Linked DNA regions of Homo sapiens. The gene in region 2 interacts genetically with the main gene of each other region. Each region holds a gene or a part of one and is shown on either strand. Other genes may lie near its edges.

Region 1 (4,885 bases), on a different chromosome or scaffold from region 2:
CCCCATCTCTACTAAAAATACAAAAAATTAGCTGGGCATGGTGGCAGGTCCCTGTAATCCCAACTACTCAGGAGGCTGAGGCAGGAGAATCACTTGAACCCAGGAGGTGGAGATTGCAGTTAGGCAAGATTGCGCCACTGCACTCCAGCCTGGGCCACAAGAGTGAAACTCCATCTCAAAGCCAAAAAAAAAAAAAAAAAGGAACAAGACAGACAGCTTCTGTCTTTGCATAACTTACAGACTGGTAGGAAGCCAGATATTGAACAATGCAAAAGAGGTTGTTTGGTCCTGTGGCTGCATAGAATGAGCTTAACATACTCTTGCCAGCTGGTGAAGGACCAACGAGAGCTTTTCATGAAAACCTGAAAAATTGATGTCTAAGTTAAAACAGGATGTGTACCTAAATGTGAGAAGCACACTTTTGAGCTGAGGAATCAAAAATAAATTTATACATGGATTTCCCCTCAACTTTTACATTGTAATAAGATGTATTAATCTTTATAGCATTATTCATGATACTTGTAACTGTGTTTTCTTGGTCTCTTTTCAGTTTGGATTTGAAATTAGTTTTCCTGAATTTTGTTTAAAGGGAGTCACACTTAAGAATTTTAGTACTTCTAATTTAAATACTGACTTCCTTGCCAAAAAGATCATACCATCAAAGGATAAGAATATTTTGCCAAAGGTAATCGTGTTTAATTTTTTTGTGTGATCATTCATGTGTATTTTTGTTCCTATAAAATATGTTTGAATCTTGACTTAATATTACTAATATATGTGCTTAAGTGTGCTCACTAGCATAATTTTTAATATAATTAAGTACTTAAGTTATACTATGTCATCAACATTAAATTTTGGTGAAAGTGTCATTGTTTTAGATGTTTAAAAAAATGTAATGCTACTAAATGTGTATAGTCCTGAAACCACCTTTGGTTTGGACTTTACTATGTGACCTTTCTAAGACTCAGTTTGGAGAGAATATGACATAGAGAAAAGAGGATATGTTTTGATGTTAGGTAAACCTGGGTTTGGAACCTAACTGTGTCACCTATAAGTTGTTTATAACCTTGGGTAGATTGATTAACTCATTTGTGAAGTGGAGGCAATAGTAACACACTTATCTTACAAAGTTATGAGGATTAAATGAGGTGAGAGTTTAATATGTGACATAGTACCTGACATATGCTTAACTTATAGTGTAAGAAGTATCAGTTCTTGCCCTGTATCTCCTATACATTTATTCTTAAAATGCAAGTAATTATAAAATATAATAACTAGGAAAAGGCTTAGTTGGCTTTTTAACATTGGAAAAATAACCTAAGAAGAGATATTTATATGAAGGTACCTTAGAATTCACTTTAAAAGAACTAATTTAAGAACATGGAAAACAGTGGGCATGAAGTTAAAGGATGTCAAATTGATGGTTAATATTTTCTAATCAAAGGGTGGTACAAAAAGAGGGTATCATTTGATTTGAACTCATTTCTCAATATTTGTTTAGAATTGCTTACTTTAAGTAACTTACTATGGCCATCTTTCACAGGAATATTAAATTCTTTTCTAAAAATTAGAATCGTAAGATTCATGACCTCAACTTTTCTTCAAGTATGAATAATGTGTCCAAATTTTTGCTACTGTTGAAGAGAATCTTAGGGTACAACTTCTTCAATAATGTAAAATTCATATTCTCTCTCTGTATATGTATAGACACACACACTGTATAAACACATATGTTTATGATTATAGATATATATACACTTAATCATGTATGGTGAAATTACTCTGCTTTTTACAAGTCTAAAACTTTGTGTAACCTCTTCAAGAAGTGTGCTCTTTTCTTTGCCTTTCATGTGAAGCACCGTGGCTCCAACTACTGAAATAGCCTCCCTTCAGTAACAAACTCTAATTTGGTTTTAGGCTTTACCCAAGAAATACAGTACCGAAATTTTATTTTTTCTGAATGGAGCTTTCTATGTTAATTAGCACATGCTGGCTTCACTATCTCTCTCTGTAATTTATTTAGTCTTTTCACTAGAATTTTTTTTTTCTAAATGTCAGTGTACCACTCAGCCTAAGTTCATCCTGGAGTGTCTTTTCTTTCACTTTTTTAGTCTGCAGATTCCACCTGCAGAGGTAGGTTGCTAATTTGTTTCTTCAACACTATAGCCTATTGTATCACCTGTCTGTCTCGTTGAAGATAAACAGCAAAAGTTGAGAACGCTTGTCCTCTGTTGCTTACCTCTTCCCATACTTATTTTCTCCTGTGAAAGCTCTTCCTGGTTACTAAGTGATCTCCATGTCTGTTTCTGTACCCTGAAAGGTAGAATTGAAATTGAAGAAATTCTGGTCTGCTATAGAGGATTAAATGCTAGGCATGCTTAATGTGTAAAAAGTTGCTTTTTAAGATCCATTTTAAAGTTTTAAACCCTTAATCACTAATTTGTTTACTTTTGTTTATGGTATTTAAATATTACACAATTTTAATTTCTTTTCTAGGTTTTCCATTATTATGGCCCTGCTTTAGAATTTGTGCAGATGATAAAATTATCAGATCTACCCTCCTGCTATATGTCGGATATTGAATTTGAGTTGTATCCTTTCATTTACATGTTCATTTTAGATTACATTTTCTGTGTCAGGTAGAATGTTCTGGTATTGTCAGGTAAATATACATGTTAGGTATATCTTTTTCATTATATTCACTGTTTTAATGTTGATGTTCAAGTAGGCTGCTGGACTCCTTATTTTTGGAGTTGCTGGGGAAGGAAGTTCTTGCTTTTCCCACCACCTGGATCCTATACCTATTTTATCAGAAATCTTCCTCCCTATGCAAGCATCTTTATTTTTGTTCAGTATTGTTGAGACTTTTCTATGGATAGGGCTATGGAAATAATACAGAAGTGATTGAGCCTTGCTTCTTTAATGCAATTATAATGTTCTCTGCTTGAGCACAGGACTGATCTACTCTCACACCTAGCCTAGCATTAACTGCAACTTTGTCCTTCCCACCCACTGCCCAGACACCACCACGTATATATTTTATGTGCTTTTGTTAACTTTACTATTATTTTTTATAGTTTTAATGCTTTTTGGAAATAATTTCCCTTTTCCTGAAATCCAGGAATACATCTCCATGACTTCTGTGTTTTACTCAATATGTTTCTGCTGAAGAAGTCTGTAACTGCAATATATCATAGCATAGAGTAAGCACTCAATATTGTCAGATGAATGACTTTGGATTATGTCAGCCTAAATCAAAATACTCATTATTTTCTTATTGAAAGTTCTTTGCTGCAGAAAAGATAACATATACAAAGGTGTAGGAGAACGTTACCCAGCTGAGAACTGTTTGTAGTCTAGAATCATTAAAGAGTAGTGGTTTTTTGGCTTGGGGGTGTTGAGGGCAGTTGCTAAGTGATCAGATTGGAGAGCCTTTTCAGATTAATCAGGTCCTAAAAGACCTTACGTATCATGATTGGGGTTAAATTCTATCCTAAAGATAATGAGGAATCATACAAGGATTATAAGCCAGACATAGCTTAATGAAAAGTAAATTTTAGATCATGCTGGTAGGATTTTGGAAACCTGAGCAAAGCTCGAACTAAACAAGTGGCATTTGGAATGGAGAGCCAGGAAAAGTACACGATGTGTTAAAGATGTAAAATCAACACGGTATTATGATTTATTTATTACATGCGGAGAAAGTGAGAAGGCCAGAGAGTGTAGTTGATTCCCTATGTTGAAACTGGTGTCACTAGTTGAGATAACATGAGGTGAGCCATTTTCGCAGAGGAAAAGGAATTCAGGTTCGGGTAGTTGGAGTGGTAATGTACATTGTAGTAAAAAGCATAATAGGTAGTTTAAAAAATTTTTTATCCATTATACATTACTGTTGAGAACCATTTAGCCAGCATGCTACCTGGCAGTATAACTAGACGTTACTTTCAGATATAATCTATTATTAATACTTCTTTTCTCTGTCCTCATCTGTTAGCAGCTTGTAGGTCAGAAGCTATTTGATGTTTTTATCTTATATTAGATTCTTGTCTTAGACCAATGGTTTTCAAACTATCTTCCAAGGAAAGTCGAGGACTGAGTTCTTCAGATAATGGGATTGAAAGATAAGTTGAGTGGGCATGGCTCTTGGCCCCCTCCTACTGCAACCAGAGCAGCACCTGTTCTACCCTAAATATTGGGTTTCCATATAAAATGTCACTTGCAAAAAGTTGCTGCATTAAAAAGGTTTGCAAAGTGCACTGTAAACTGTTTTCATGGTACCACCCAACACTTAGATGTTTGGCCGTGTTTTTACATAATATTCAGTATACTTTTTGCTACCATTATGTTAAGAAAAGTTCTACAACTTGAAAAAAAAAATCTTCCCTCAAATACTGTATTTATGCTTTTAGAATAGGCAGAGGACTTCCTGGTATATGGTGTAGAGAGGAGGGAGAAATGTTAGGAATCTGTGGAAAATAAAACAAGTAATTTATAAACTTAAAAAATGTTTAAATGTTTCTCCTGCCATCAGCATGAAGAAACCTAAGAATCAGTCAGCTGATGTATCATTTTATGTATTTAAGTAAATATAAATGGTATCACATGTATCTGCAAATATATTCAACATATTTTAAACTCTCTTTTAAAAATATATAAGCATGTTTAGAAATACACCTAAGAACAGAACATTTTATATAAAAAGAAATTGTTATTGGCTGGAAATGAAACACTAGCATAGTGTTTTTGAATTTTTATTTAGGAGCTACAGTTTTTATAAATTTCTTGTTCTTATAGTTTATAGTAATGCTCTATATAGTAGCACTGTTTCTTAGCATATTTTCAGAATCAAACAAATAATTGGAAAAATACTTATCCTTAGGGAAAG
Region 2 (5,588 bases):
GCCAACTCAGCACAAAGTAGGTTACCTGCTTTTTAAAGATTAAAAAAAAATGCAAATCTTGCAAACACTGTTACATCTTAGAGGTGTATTTAAAATGTAGTAGGTAGAAAAGAAATAAGAAAAAGCAATCTTAAAAAAGGTTTTAGGGTACAAGTAAAAAGGTACAAAAAGGACCGGGCATGGTGGCTCACGCCTGTAATCCCAGCACTCTGGGAGGCCAAGGCGGGCAGATCACAAGGTCAGGAGATCGAGACCATCCTGGCCAACATGGTGAAACCTCATCTCTCCTAAAAATACAAAAATTAGCTGGGTGTGGTGGCACGTGCCTGTAATCCCAGCTACTTGGGAGGCTGAGGCAGGAGAATTGCTGGAATCCAGGAGGCAGAGATTGCAGTGAGCTGAGATGGCACCACTGCACTCCACCCTGGCGACAGAGCGAACTCCGTCTCAAAAAAAAAAAAAAAAATAGAAAATAGAAAAAAAAGTACCAAAAAAAAATTAAACTATCCACTCCCAAATTTTTGCTTCAGTCTCTTTCTCTGTTTGCCTATGTTCCAGCCTCTTGTTTTGCAAACAAACAAAACACTTCTGCTTTAGTCCTTTCTCACACAGAGGTCAGCTCTAATCTTACAGAAAAATGGAGTCCAGTACCAATGATCATACTGCACTTAGCGGCCATAACTGCCTCACCCAAGTGGGGAGAAGCTACAGCCCTAGGTCAACGGCAAAGCCAAAATGCCAACAGCTGGCGTTTTTCTGGTTAAAGTTACTTCCTTGTCTTCCTTTCAAATTATGTTTAGCTAAGTTCGTTATTCAGTTACCTAGGATTTTCAGATTCTGTTGTACAAATAAAAGCTTAAGTAGAATAAAATTTTCCCTCCTACTGAGTCAGCAGATCAGCTATTAAGTTGAACCATCTGAAATTACTGGTATTAGACCATTTTTGTCTTACAAAAATGGCAAGTGCAGATAGCTCAACCTAATGGAGTCAAGTGAGTATGTCTCAAAGCATACGTACAAAAAACTGTTTGAAATTATATTTATTTACAGGGGCTAGTCCACCCCTATACCTTCAGATTGAACATAACTAAATAATCTCTTTAAGGAAGCTTTAAAATGTTATTATCAGTATCATCCAAGAGAAGGCAGCTGTCTTCCCTCTTTCAAAATGTCTCCAGAAAAAGAGATTCCTCATTACTCATAGGCAAATTGCTCCAGCATTTAATCACTGACACAGCCACAAGAACCCCTGACCTCGCACCAAACATGATTTTGTGATCACAATATCTTACTGGTACAGCAATAATTTTAAGTGCTTAATTTTCACATGTGTAAGACTTAGTTCCCTTAAATAAAAGAATGACTGCTCCCTTACCTTATAGATTTTATACGCTATAAAAGTAAATGCAATTCTAAGAAGTTTGCCTTCAATCTGAGTGTCAATATATGAAGAAAAAAAATGCCAGACTCCCAAAAAAACATGCTTTTAAAGCAATGCAATCATTTGTGAACAGGGAGGTGGCTATGCAAATCACTGAATGAAAGTAATCAGTAGGGCTCTGTATAAATGTGTGTGAAGGGGTGCTCTACCCTACCTCCACTCCCTTATCCCCTAGTCCTAAGCTATTTTGGTCATTGTTCTCTTTGAAAGCCTTTGTGGAAACTACAGGCAGCGGGCCTGTCACCCAACAGATCTTTTTTGTTTCTACTTTTTCTAGAAACAGCTTTGACCTTTTCCCACCAGGTATTATTATGCAGCCTTCTAATGGCATCTTTTGATCTCACCTGGACTCTTTTACAGGTTCCTCAGACATCCTTTAAAATGTAGACAACAAAGCTATTGTGAATTTCCCTCTTCTCTTATGCACAAGGAGACACTGTCTGAGCCCCCAGGCTTCTGGTTTCTAGTATTACCTGTGGCTAAATAGGTTTGTCTTTTAGTCAGGGTGTGAATTTTGATTTGTGGGGCTTCCTGTTGGTTGAAACTATCAGACTAGATAGGCTTTCGAGAGGTTCCTATGGGACAAAAGGAAATTAAGAGGTGGCAGGTATAAAACAGATTTGTTTAACTGTTAAAAAAAAAAAAAGCTACACTTCATTCTCAAAGATGTACTTGAACATAAATACTTGTCAAGTCAGGGAGACTGGATGATCTCTAAATAACTTAGTCACCCTTTTTTTGAGGGGTATAGCAAGGGTAGAAGGCTTTCTTGTCTTTGCAAATATTTACATTCAAGAACAAGTAGTGGCCAGGTGAGGTGGCCCATGCCTATAATCCCAGCACTTTCAGAAGCCAAGGAGGGAAGATCCCTTGAGCCTAGGATTTGGAGACCAGTCTGGGCAACATAATGAGACCCTGTCTCTACAAAAAAATACAACGATAAGCTGGGCATGGTGGCAGGTGCTCAGGAGGATGACGTTGGGAGGTCTGCTTGAGCCCAGGAGATTGAGGCTGCAGCAGGCTATGATTATGCCACTGCACTCCTGCCTGGGGAACAGAATGAGACTCTTTAAAAAAAAAAAAAAAAAAAGTAGAAGACCGTAAATCTAGTTTCCTAAGGATGCTCCAAATATTCGAGTTCTTATAATTGTCATTACCTTATGTTCACTCAAAATGGCTCTGACAAGTCCAAACACTTTGAGGGGAGGTGGGGAGCTATATCATTCATAAACAGCAGTTAAAAGTCATAGTAAAATGCAAAAGACGGGGGCACTGTATTAAAAGAAGACGTGGCCTCAAATCAAGAGAGAATATTTTAATTTCAGTAATCTTTAATGTCTTTATTTGTAAAATAAGAATAATAAAGCCTGCTTGCTCTCTTAGGGTCAAGAAAATAGTTGTGAAGGCAACTGTATATATCATCTATTAATATTATATCTAGATTTTTTAGAAAGTCATACTGTTATTTCCTTCCTTCAAATATTTCCAAAGGTCTATAGGAACAATCAGACTGTTAAAATGTATAAGAACATGTGAAGTGATTAGACCCAAATCCAAAATTATGCTACATCACACGAAATAGCCACACCAAATCCAGTAAAATTGTCAACATCATTAGGTGAACAAATATGTATGTAATGCCTCCGCTTTCAGGCAAAGTAGGTTAGGACATTTAAAACCTGCCCAGAACTCTATCTCTGAGACTTACTTGAGGACTTGTTGTCTAATGTTGTTTCTTAGCTGGTTCTTATTGAGATGCGGACTCCATGTGTGAGTTGCCAAGTGATTTGCAACAAAGTTGTCAACACGCTGTCTCAGATTCTGATACGCAGGCTAGAGAGAAAAAAACGAAGGTAAGTCTTCAAGGTTATACAGTATCAATATTCACCTCTCAGAAAAGTATTTTTACCATGGGACAACAAAGTTTCACAGTTTCTGACAATTCTGCTTCAAGATAACTTACACTCATTCAAATACTACTTATTTTGTGTAAGACAAGGTGTTTGGAGATATGAGGAATATAAAGAAGAAAGATACACCTCTTATTTATAGACAAAGGACTGGAAAATAAGACACGAACAAGTGTTATTATTAGATGATTTGGAGTAAAAAAGGGAGAAGAGCTGAGGAAGCATGCCTTCACTGAAAATGTGCCATTTGAGCTGGAAAAATCAATTGCACAAGGAAGCTGGGAATGAGAATGGCTGGCTTTGCTCATACAGTCAATGTAAACAAAGAGCAAGTGGATGAGCAAACTGGAGGCCAGGAGCATTTAGTGAGCCTCCAAATTGGTGGTCCAATTTGGCTATAGAAGAGAATACAAAAAGCAGAGAAATGAGGTTAAGACAGAGAGGTTGGGGCCAGGTGCTAAAAAGCTTTGGTTACTTGTACAAGTTTGGAATTACAGGGTAGAGAATGGGAGCCCACTGCACATATGGGCAGAGTGATAGAACAGCTAAGCTTTCTGATGGTTAATCATCCTACAGTGCAAGAGTAAAGAGACACAAAATACTTTAGGAAAGCATGCAATAAACTACAGTGAGGAAGGTCTTTACTGGGGTGGCAGAAACCAGCTAATGGCATAGACCCAAGAGAAATTATTGAGGGACAACTACTTGAACTAGGCATTAAATCTGAGGTAAGGCAATGGTTCTCTACCAAGAAGGATTTCACTCTCATCCCCCAAGGGACGCTTGGCAATGTCTGGAGACATTTTAGGTTGTTACAACTGATGAGAGTGCTATTGGCATCTAGTGGGTCAAGGGCAAGGATGCTACTGAAGATCCTACAATGCATAGGACAATCCCCCGACAGCAAAGAACTATCCAGCCCCAAATGTCGACAGTGCTGAGTCTGAGAACCCTTGATGTGCTCCCTGAGGGGAACATGGAGGGGAACACATATTACATCATCTCTACCTGAAGGGGCATTGCCTGGAAGGAATATGTGACCAAGCACTCAGCACTGCACTCCATTTCTAGAGGCTGTCTCCCAACACTGATGTTCTTTCTACCTTTCTTCTATACAGCTTTTAATGTGGATGAGTTTGAGTGTCCCTGACTGATATTAAGCAAGCACTGTATAGCCTCACCTTCTGCCATTTGCCTCCTTTTAGCTTCAAAGTTTACACTCCAGTGAGAAATTCTCATATCTGCACCTACCATCCTGCAACTACCATTCCCTCTGGTTGTCCATCTGACAAACTTCTCACCTTCAGAGCTCACCCTAATCTGTGAAATCATCTTGACACCGAAGGTAGGCTTATGGGCTCTTCATCCACGCTCCTACTGTTTTCTATACATGCTACCATTCGAGCAATTCTTGCACTACATTGTATTTTCGGAAGCAAGGCATATTTATCCTCCATTGATGTGTAAGCCTCCTCCTCTATCTCTCTTACAATTTGTTTTCATATAGCCTATCACACTGCTTGGCAAATGAGCAATTAAAATATACTTGTTAGCTGAATGGGTAACTATCTCTAACACAGAATGACAAACATTTTATCCCTCTGATGCCCTTTCATCAGTTCCAATTTTCAGGCCTTTGCTGATACTTATTTCCTGTCCTACATGATCATTTCCTATGTGCCTGTCCATTTATCCAAAATCGATATGAACTAAAATTAATTCTTTTTTTTTTTTTTTTTTGGCAGAGTCTTGCTCGATTGCCCATGCTAGAGTACAGTGGTGTGATCTCGGCTCACTGGAACCTCCACCTGCCGGGTTCCAGTGATTCTAGTGCCTCAGGCTCCTGAGTAGCTGGGACTACAGGCATGCGCCACCACACCTGGCTAATTTTTGTATTTTTAGTGGAGACAAGGTCTTGCTATATTGGCCATGTTGGTCTTGAACTCCTAACCTCAAGTGATCCACCTTTCTCGGCCTCCCAAAGTGCTGGGATTACAGGTGTCAGCCACCATACCCAGCCCTAAAACTAATTCTTAATTCTTTCTCCCCAATGATTCTAAAGCCTAATTCTTCTTTCCGGTATTCCCAAATCTAACACACATTCATTAGGCTCTAACATCACAATGCATTTGGCATTCTAGTCTAGTCTTCCCAGAACAAGTTCAAATCTGAACTACTCAACAGGTAATTTTCCTTGTTTTCAAGCTCTCCTTTCAGTAAAAAGTTGAGCAACTAGA
Region 3 (4,885 bases), on a different chromosome or scaffold from region 2:
TATTCATTCAACAAGGGACTAAACATCCAGAATATACAAGAAAAACAACTCAACAGCAAAAAAACAAAAAACCCTATTAAAATGTGGGCAAAGGATTTGAATAGACATTTCTCTAAAGAAGACATACAAATGGCCAAAAGGTGTATGAAAAAATGGTCGACACCACTAAATCACCAGGAAAATGCAAGTGAAAACCACAATGATTCATCTCACCCCAGTTAGAATGATTATCAAAAAGACAAAATATAACAAATGCTGGGGGGGATGTGGACAAAAGGGAACTCTCATATGCTGTTGGTGAGAATGTAAAATTAGTACAGCCATTATGGAAAACTAAATGGAGTTTTCTAAAAAACTAAAAATAGAACTACCATATTGTATATAGCACCCTTAACATAAGTAACTCCATTTTAGAAAGAGATTGCATCTCACATTTCAAAAGACATCATGCCCACAGGGACCCGATGTTCACCTTATCAATAAAGACTGCACTCAATCAGATAATGACATAAACAGGCACAATATTTCACTATCAGTTATCACCAGAAGATTCTGTGGCCACAAAAAGAGCAAGACTTTACCAGCTCAAAACAGCTGTCTTGATAACAGCCTGTCTGGCTGTCACTTGTGATCAGCACCTGGCATCTGTCACCAAAGGCTCCTCCTTGCAAGAATGTTGACAACCGTCCAGATCAGGCCAGAATATTCTCTTTGTCCAGTTGTTCTCTTTGGACTAGTTCTTTAGCCCCCCCCCCCTTTTTTTTCTATCCTTTTCTCCTGTTAAATGTTACTTTGTTTGATGTGGAATGTTTACACTGCAACATTTACATATATTAATACACTATTATGTATGGTTTGCAATACTGACTGACTTGTGGAGAGGCTTGAGCCTGTATGCCCATGGCTCTGACTATTGAGTGAACTGGTAGTACTAGGGGGAAATGCCTCCTTGGGAACTCCATGTAGCTTGTGGCTTTTATGACTGAAATAGCATCAATAAAAGTTTGCTCTTGTAGAAAAGACACAAACATGTATGGACCTGGTTATGTCTGACTTTGCACCACTCACAACACATATGATTCAGAAAGCACACTATTGGGTAATCTATCCAAAGGAAAGGAAATCAGTATGTGAAAGGGATACTTGTACCCCCATGTTTATTGCAGCATTATTCACAATAACCAAGATATGGAATTGACTTGAGTGTCCAACAGCAGATTAATGGATAAAGAAAATGTCAGAAATATATCCATCATGGAATACTATTCAGCCATAAAAAAGAATGAAGCCCTGTTATTTGCAGCAACATGGATAAAACTGGTGGTCGTTAAGTGAAATAATAGGCACAGAAAGACAAATATCTCATGTTCTCATTCATATGTGGGGTCTAAAAAAGTTCACCTCATGGAGGTAGAGAGTAGAACGATGGTTACCAGAGGCTGGGAAGGGGTTGGGGGTGAAGAATGTTTGGTTAATGGGTACAAACCATACAGTTAGGTAGAAGAGTAAGCTCTAGTGTTAAATAGCACAGTAAGGTGACTACTAAGTAACTAGTATGTAACTAGTTAAGTAATTAGCACAGTCGGGTGACTAGCACAGTAAGGTTCCTTAAACTTTAAAAATTTACTATATATTTCAAAGTAGCTAGAAGAATTGAAATGTTCCCAACACAAAAAATGATAAATGCTTGAGCTGATAGGTATACTAAATACCCTTATTTGATCATTACACATTATATGTATGTATCAAAGTATCATGTGAACCCTATAAATATGTAATCATGTATTAACCAAAAAAATTAATTTTAAAAAAAGCAAACTTACCCACCATGCCCTCGATTTTGTATTCCTTCTAACAAAGCCTCCATCACCAAATCCCCTTTGTTTTGGCAACTGACAAAGAAAAAAATATCAGTCATGAGACAATTCATTTCTTCAGTTCTAACATTCTAACTTACAACTTAAGAATGTGAATGAAAGCATACATAATAATGAAAAAATGCAGCACTTCTTAAGATGACTGTAGAAGCAGTCAAAGAACATCACTTCAGGAATACTAGGAACAAACTATTTCGGACTAAAACAGAATAACTTAAAAATATCTGAATTGCGGTTGACACTCTCTCCGTGTAAATATCAAATATCTCATTGTTCTTTGCCTAATTCCTAATGTCGGGTGAGCAGGGGTGGAGGTGGGATCTCTCTAGCAGACGGATACACAAACTCCCTTAACAAAATGAGAAAGAAATGGGTTCACACATGTCAGAGGGAAAGTATAGCTTTTTAAAAATTAAAGAGATAGTATAAAAAATGCGAAGTGTACTGAGATTAAACTCTTTGGTCTATCATGGGAAAGCCTACTCACTCCTGAAGACAGGCTCATAGAGCTTCCTGCATGCAACATCCTCTCTCCACCGAAAGGCAGCCACAGGGCCCTCCCACCTCTGCACTTCATTTGCTCCCAGTGCTTAATACGTTCTTTCATAGGAGTTGCACCACACTGGAAGTGAGTTTTTTACATACTATTTTTCCTTACTAGACTATTCATCCCTCCAGGGCAGAAACCCAATTTTATTCATCTCTGCAGCTGCAGAGCTCAACGCAGCATTTCAACATGGCACGTGGCAGATTATTTTGGCTGAACTTAACTCCCCTCCCTCTTTTACCTACCCTCTCCCCCATGCAAACTGGTCACAGCTGGGGAACTACATGAAGGGTCTAGCAGAGAAAGAGGGAACGGGAGATAGAAGACTGCCATATAAACAGCAAGATACAGTTGGGTGCGGTGGCTCACGCCTGTAATCCTAGAACTTGGGAGGCCGAGGGAGGCGGATCACCTGAGGTCAGGAGTTTGAGACCAGCCTGGCCAACATGGTAAAACTCCGCCTCTACCAAAAAAAAAAAAAATTAGCTGGGCATGGTGGCATGCACCTGTAGTTCCAGCCATGGGGAGGCTGAGGTAGGAAAATCGCTTGAAGTCGGGAGGCGGAGGTTGCAGTGATCCGAGATCACACCATTGCACTACAGCCTGGGTGGCAGACAGAGATTCCATCTCAAATAAATAAATAAATAAATAAATAAATAAATAAATAAATATAAAATAAAGGGTAAGATACACCATGAAGAAAGGTGACAGTGAGAAAGGAAAGAGGACCCTTAAACTCAGTAGTGTTGATTAATATGTGTATGCTTCTCGCCTTTTATAATAAATCTTCAAAATGTTCAATGTCAAACCACTTTTCATTCCAAAATGCTTTTTCCTTAAACCCTTAAGACAATAACCAGACTGTGGTGTAGAGGTTCTGCCCCTGGGCTAATCCTCATCTAAAAATTATACTGCTGTAAGAAGTAGATTATTTTACTCAACACGTAATTCAATGTTGTACTAACAACTAGATATATAGTGATGAAAGATATGGCCCCTTTCAAGGTATTAATAGTCTAGTATGGGACAGAAAAAAATGAGCCAAAAAGGCTTTCCCAGTGTGATAAATATAGTGAGAGACATGCCCAGGGTGTTCCAGAGACACAGAGGAGAATGAGAAGACTGGAAAATAGAACCACTGCACCTTATTTGCATCTATTTTTAAAGATACTAACAAACTGAGTATTAAATTATTTGTGCACAAACGTGACAGGGAGGATTTTTTTTCTAGTTGGTTTATCCTACATATTACACCAAAATTGCAAAAATAAAAACCTAAAGAAAAAGGTTCCCATGTTTTACTCCACTTTCAAATCACAATACAGTCCAACTACAATGCAACCAAGATTCCATGTTTTGGTCCACTCTAGGAGAACTGGGAGGCAGTACACGGTCCACACCACACTAGATGGAGACCCAGGATACAGTCCTACTCTGCAACTAACTAGCTTTATATTCTCGGACTTGTTTTAACATCTGCAAAATGAGGGGCATGAACAATATTCTCTAAGGTTTCTTCCAGCTTTTTCATGGGTTCTAACAGCCAATTAAATGTCCACTGTAAGTAGCATGCTCCTGACAACCATACACGGATACTTAACTAACATGTAGGAAAGTGCTATTCTTATTGACAGTGCTATCACAGTTATTCAAAATTATCATTAGTAAAATTATACTTATTTAGGTCATGTTATTCTTAAACATTAATATATTTAGTAATATACATTAATATATTTTCTATGACTATTTAATAATATACTTAGAAGTTAAGTTACTGAATGTTCAACAGCTGCCTTGTACACATTGTCTAAATCAATCTTCACTATACTCATAAAAGACAGATACTATTACTTTGAGAAAACAGGCTTAGAGAGTTAAATAACTTGACTATGATAAACTAAAAATTATAGTCCTGGATTCAACCTAGACATTGTGGCAATCAATTGAGTCACAATCGATGTGCAACCTTTATATATTTTACAGTATTCTATATCTTAAAATATATCAGCCTATCTTTTGGCTTAATAGTGTCTTTGCAATAAAAAAAGAAATTAAACTGAAGTATGACATCACTACTGTGGCCACCAGGTGGCAGCAGCACAATAATGAAATAGTCACATAAGAAATATTGCTATTTTAGAAATCAAAATGGTCTAAGATAGAGATTCCTGTTTAAAAAAAAAAAAAAAAAGGAGGGAAGTGGACCAGTAATATCCTATGTGAGAAATAAAGTAAACTTACTAATGTGCAAAGTGTTTCTGTAATACCTTCACCATCTGCCTGGTGCCAAACACCATCAATTCTCAGGATCAGGCAAATAGTAAGGGCTGATTTTCTGTGGATGTTTGTCATCTGAGTTGCTCATAGTTATATCACTGATTCTTTTCCTAACCAACCTGACCATCATTCAACTCTATGCACTATGTCACTTTGATTTCTTCTTTGCATGTGCCATATAATT
Region 4 (4,885 bases), on a different chromosome or scaffold from region 2:
AATCTCTCCTTTTCATTTTTATTTTAGTTCAGCTTATGCAAGATTTTGTACCTTGTGAAAGAATTTGTTTACTGAATAAAAAATATTGCTTAAGATTTAAAGCAATTAAAGCAAAATAAGTTGCTGAAGGGAGATCATATGAGTTAAATACAGGCTTTTTTTTTTAATCTGTAATTGATTTACATTTGATTTTAAGAAGACACTGTTTACATCAGGTCACCACAAAGCAGATTTACATACAACCTTCAATTGCGGAAAAACAAAGTTTCTTTTTGATCCAAACACAAAGAAAAACTTCTTTGTGTTTTTTTTTAATGATCTTTTCCTTGATCATAAAAAAAAGTAAAAAATGCAGTACTTTTAGAAGGTAAAGCTAGTAAGTTTACAGAAGTGCAAAACACCAAAACACTTGAAGCAAAAACTTTTTTTTTTTTTTTAAGAAAAAGGTATGACTTCTTGTTTTCTGTTCTTGGCATAAATTTTAATTCTTTCCAGTGGAACCAAAACCTCCTGAACCCCTTTCGGTGTCATCCAAGGCCTGAAAGATAGAAAGGTAGTAAGCTTCACAGTTTTTTTTAAGAGCCTCTTTCAGTTTTCCTCTCCAGCTCCTAAGAAAAATACAGCCAGAATTCTACTCTTGCTATATCATCTTTTCAAAAGGGAGATTACAGAAAGAAAATTAAATTCTAAAAAGCTCCATAAATTAGAATACTGGATAACTTTAAAAAATTCTAATAAAATATTAGAAGTTCACAGTATGTTTAAATAACTTATTATCCAAAGTAATACTACATAATAGCTACATGAAAAACATTTAAAGAAATTCTAAAACTAGTATTTTAAATTTGCTTAAAATAAGTTTAGTCATATATACTATTTAGTTACAAACAGCATATTAAATTCTCAAGATTATATATATTTCTTCACTTAAGATGTTATATTACTTATTCTGTATCTTCCTTTGTAATACTTACTTGAACTTCTTCTATTTCTGGATAAAAAATCCGTTCGCAAATGAGCTGTGCAATTCGATCACCTTTTTTGACTTCAAAGAAAGAATAGTTTATTACTGACGTTACTGACACATTCGCCATATCCTGTCTTATTCAATGAGAATTAAAGGAGTCAATATTAATTTACACATACATGACTCTGAAAATTCACTAAAATTATGTGAATGTATATATTTAACATACCTTCAAACTTTTCTTTGCCAAAATTAAACAGTACAACACCAACATTTCCTCTATAATCTTCATCTATGACACCAGCTAGAGAAAAGAAAAGTAATATTATCTCAATTTTTGCTATTGGAATACTAGAGGTGTAAGATTATCTCAAAATCATTATCATGTAGCTCTGAGATTTGTATTCTTACAATTGAATAAGTGAATCTTGCCCTGGTACTATGTAAAGCCTCAAAACCAAGAAATGACATTACTAAAATACAAATAAAAATTTAGAAAACAGGTCCTAATTTTCCAACCTGTCACTCTTTATCAAATGGCGACCATTTCCTATTTTAAGCTGGCAGTAGCAATGGCCATCTCCAACCTACTGTCTACCCACGGCACACTTGCCAAAAAGACTAGGAGAAAATTACGATTTGGGTTTTAAAGGTTTTTCCTGGTATCAGCTTCCCGCTAATACCCAGATTGAAATACGATTGAGTCATAAATAAAAATGTCAAAAAGCCTAAAGCTCTGCAGTGGAGTAAATCAACGCTGACATTGTTAAGCAGCAGTCTTGCAAATATTAGAATATTCCATTTTTACACTAAAAATGAAGCTGTATTTTTCAGTTCATAATCTTCCTCTCCTTTTAATCTGAACCACCATCCTTTCTTAGAGCATGGTTTCTCAGAAGACTGTAGCACATAGGCTTCATGAGTACAACTTTTTTTGTGTAATTAATACTTGTTTAAGATTATGAACACAGGGGGAGAAGATCTTTGCAGGGGAGACTTGAGCCAGGTCCCTGACATAGCCCAGAGAGTTATACTTACCAGACTTGCTAGCATTTATCTTTGAGCCAATAATTTAAAATATTTCCATAAGCACAAGCACAGATAATACAGGTGCACCGGGCCTTTTCATTTTTTTATATTGATAAATAATTCACAAAGCATACAATTTATCCATTTGAAGTGTTACAATTCCACAGTTCATAGTGTATCAGAGTTGGCCAACTATCGTCACAGTCAATTATAGCACATTTACATTACCCTCCCTCCAAAAATCCCCTACCTTATTAGCAGTCACTCCCCTTCCTCCTCCCACCCCCAATTTCCTGCTATACACGTTAATTCTTTCTCCTCAGTTTGTGAAAGGCTGGATAAGACTCACGTGAATCTAACTGAAGACAGCTCCATGTCACATCTTACTTGTTATTAATACTCTACCCCAAACAAAAGCCCTGATGAAGGAAAAAATATGGAAATAAAAATAATCCTGTGTTCAGCTCAATGGGCAGTAATGCTATTTGCCCATACTCCTCATTATTTGAAAGCTGAGAAAACAGACAAAAAAACCCCAAAGCATACCCACCCCCCATTTTTTAAGAACAAGGGTAATTCCTAAGCATATCCTTTCAATTTTCTCATATAATGGGGGGAAAAAAGCAAACCCTTAGGTCCACCACGGGGAAAAATATTCAGCAAAAACAACATTTTAGATTTTCCGAATGGATTACAACATACGTTTAAATGAACCCCTGTGCTTTATGAATGAATTACTAGGGACAAGTGAATCTGAATTTAAGCACTTCTTAAAAGGTTCCTGATGCAACACTTTTACGAGAAGAGTGAGTATAAAACTGGGCAGAAAAGCAGCAAAGGCAGTTCATCTCCTGTCGGGCCTGAAGGAAACAATCCATTATTGAACTTGACCAATTCCAATACCAAACCCTGCTTTATTTCTCCACCGTCAGTTGACCATTAATTTACACCTTAATATTTATGAAAAAATTTGATATAAAGATGAAACCAGCTGTTTTCCATATTATCTATATGGAAAAAATTTTGACTGCAGGGACAATTTAAATTAGATTTAATGAAGAAATCCCTCAACATAGCATGTTGTTCCATGCTAGAAAAAATGGCCACAGTAGGCTAGAGAACTTCCATGCTGGGAGATTTTGAGGTACAAGCTAATAATTCATCTATCTTGAATGAGTTAGAGAAAGACATGGACTGACTTCTGAACTATTGTTTCTACTTTATTCAAAAATTTTTAAATAACTAAAACAATACAAATACATATAAAGTAAAAGCTTATAATATTCTCTTACCCTCCCTGAGATAGCTAATGTTACAGAAATATATCTTACATACTACTTTATTTTTTTCTTTTTATCCTTTGAGATTAATATATGTAAATGTTAGCCATTCTTTTTAGATACAAGATATGGAAATATGGGTTCTCTCTCTCCTTCTCTTTCTTTTTTTGGCAGGGTCTCACTCTTATAGCCCAGGCAGGAGTATAGTGGTATGATCACAACTCACTATAGCCTCAACCTCAAGTGATTCTCCCACCTCAGCCTCCAGGTACAAAGGCACCACCACACCTGGCTAATTTTTGTATTTCTTGTAGAGAGAAAGTATCCCTATGTTGCTCAAATAAGCCTCAAACTCCTGGGCTCAAGCAATCTGCCTGTCTCAGCCTCCCAAAGTGCTGGGATTACAGGCATGAGCCACAACGCCCAACCTGTACCATTGTTTCTATGTAACTATTCTCTTGCATAATATCAGACACAGGCTGCTTTTACATTTTGCTATAATAAATGAAGCAGCCCTTTAAGTATATCCTTGTATATGAATGCTTTTTATTTTCATCAAATAGGTTGCAAAAAAGGTGTAGCCACTCAAACTTCCATCAGCAATATTTGAGAATGCCCATTTCCAAAATCCTTGCCAATATTTGATGGCAACAATCTCTTACATTCTGGCCAATATGATGAGTACAAAATGGCTATCTCATTGCCTTACTTTTCATTCCCTGATGACTAGTGAGGCTGGATTTTTTTCCTCCCATTTGTTGGACATTTGCATGTCCTTGTCTATATTTTGTGTATGTTTTTTTCTCATTTGTTCTTTTTCATATAAGTTGCAAATATTTGCTTGTTGGCTTTATAGTATCTTCTAACATACAAAAACACTCCCTTTTTGAAAGGCCTCTGCTAACGTATCTGTAAAGCAGTCCTATCAGAACTACTCAAATGATTGGGTGTCTTGAATCCTGCAGATAGGTGATCTTTATGCTTGGGCCACGAAAATGTGAAAAACCTTTAAGTGACTAAAAGAAATTAAGAAGTTTGAAGTCAATTCAAATGTATGGCAGAAAAAAAGGCCCTCAATAGTTTTTTTTTTTGCATGAATGTTGACGGTATAAAAATTTCAGTAGTTCCAAATTCATTTACCACCCAATTGCCATTCGACCTCCAAGAAAAGCCTTCTCTGCCTACAGGATATAAGTATCAGGGATATTTCTCCTCAGAGAAAGCAGAAAGTAACTTGAAGTTATCACTGGAAAAATCATGCATTGGAACTGGCAGAGTGATTAACTGACTTCAGGCAAAAGTTTTACTGTGTCAAGAGTTTGGCATGTCATTTGTTGGAAACCTTTTTTAGTGAAAAACTATCCACACCTACCAGATGTGAATTCTGAACAGAATCCTGAATGCTCAACTTTTCCCTTTGACCCTTATTTAGAGCCTGGGATTTCTAACAACATCTCTCTTCAGAAATAAAAACTGTTGCCAACTATGATAAACTTGTGCCTAAGGGAGATTGTTAAGATTCTCTGCATCCAAGAACACACCACAATGTGATTTTATGAATAACACCATACCAACCACTAGGCAAACTAACTTTCCATTCTTTTACATG

What was found. A genetic interaction does not mean that the proteins touch.
Region 1: changes in BOD1L1 (region 2) and MTBP together harm fitness less than expected from each alone (positive genetic interaction), as found in Homo sapiens cells (one large-scale study listed by BioGRID).
Region 3: changes in BOD1L1 (region 2) and CEP63 together harm fitness more than expected from each alone (negative genetic interaction), as found in Homo sapiens cells (one large-scale study listed by BioGRID).
Region 4: changes in BOD1L1 (region 2) and DUT together harm fitness more than expected from each alone (negative genetic interaction), as found in Homo sapiens cells (one large-scale study listed by BioGRID).

The regions. Positions count from the first base shown.
Region 1 is NC_000008.11:120,458,665-120,463,549, forward strand, and holds part of MTBP (mdm2-binding protein), read left to right. Parts: intron 1-550; coding exon 551-685; intron 686-2,496; coding exon 2,497-2,591; intron 2,592-4,885. UniProt on the Homo sapiens protein: Inhibits cell migration in vitro and suppresses the invasive behavior of tumor cells. May play a role in MDM2-dependent p53/TP53 homeostasis in unstressed cells. Inhibits autoubiquitination of MDM2, thereby enhancing MDM2 stability.
Region 2 is NC_000004.12:13,616,794-13,622,381, forward strand, and holds part of BOD1L1 (biorientation of chromosomes in cell division protein 1-like 1), read right to left. Parts: intron 3,275-5,588; coding exon 3,150-3,274; intron 1-3,149. UniProt on the Homo sapiens protein: Component of the fork protection machinery required to protect stalled/damaged replication forks from uncontrolled DNA2-dependent resection.
Region 3 is NC_000003.12:134,492,303-134,497,187, reverse strand, and holds part of CEP63 (centrosomal protein of 63 kDa), read right to left. Parts: intron 1,893-4,885; coding exon of another isoform or gene 1,868-1,892; coding exon 1,824-1,867; intron 1-1,823. UniProt on the Homo sapiens protein: Required for normal spindle assembly.
Region 4 is NC_000015.10:48,337,675-48,342,559, reverse strand, and holds part of DUT (deoxyuridine 5'-triphosphate nucleotidohydrolase, mitochondrial isoform 1 precursor), read right to left. Parts: intron 1,272-4,885; coding exon 1,197-1,271; intron 1,046-1,196; coding exon 975-1,045; intron 539-974; coding exon 482-538; 3' UTR 1-481. UniProt on the Homo sapiens protein: Catalyzes the cleavage of 2'-deoxyuridine 5'-triphosphate (dUTP) into 2'-deoxyuridine 5'-monophosphate (dUMP) and inorganic pyrophosphate and through its action efficiently prevents uracil misincorporation into DNA and at the same time provides dUMP, the substrate for de novo thymidylate biosynthesis.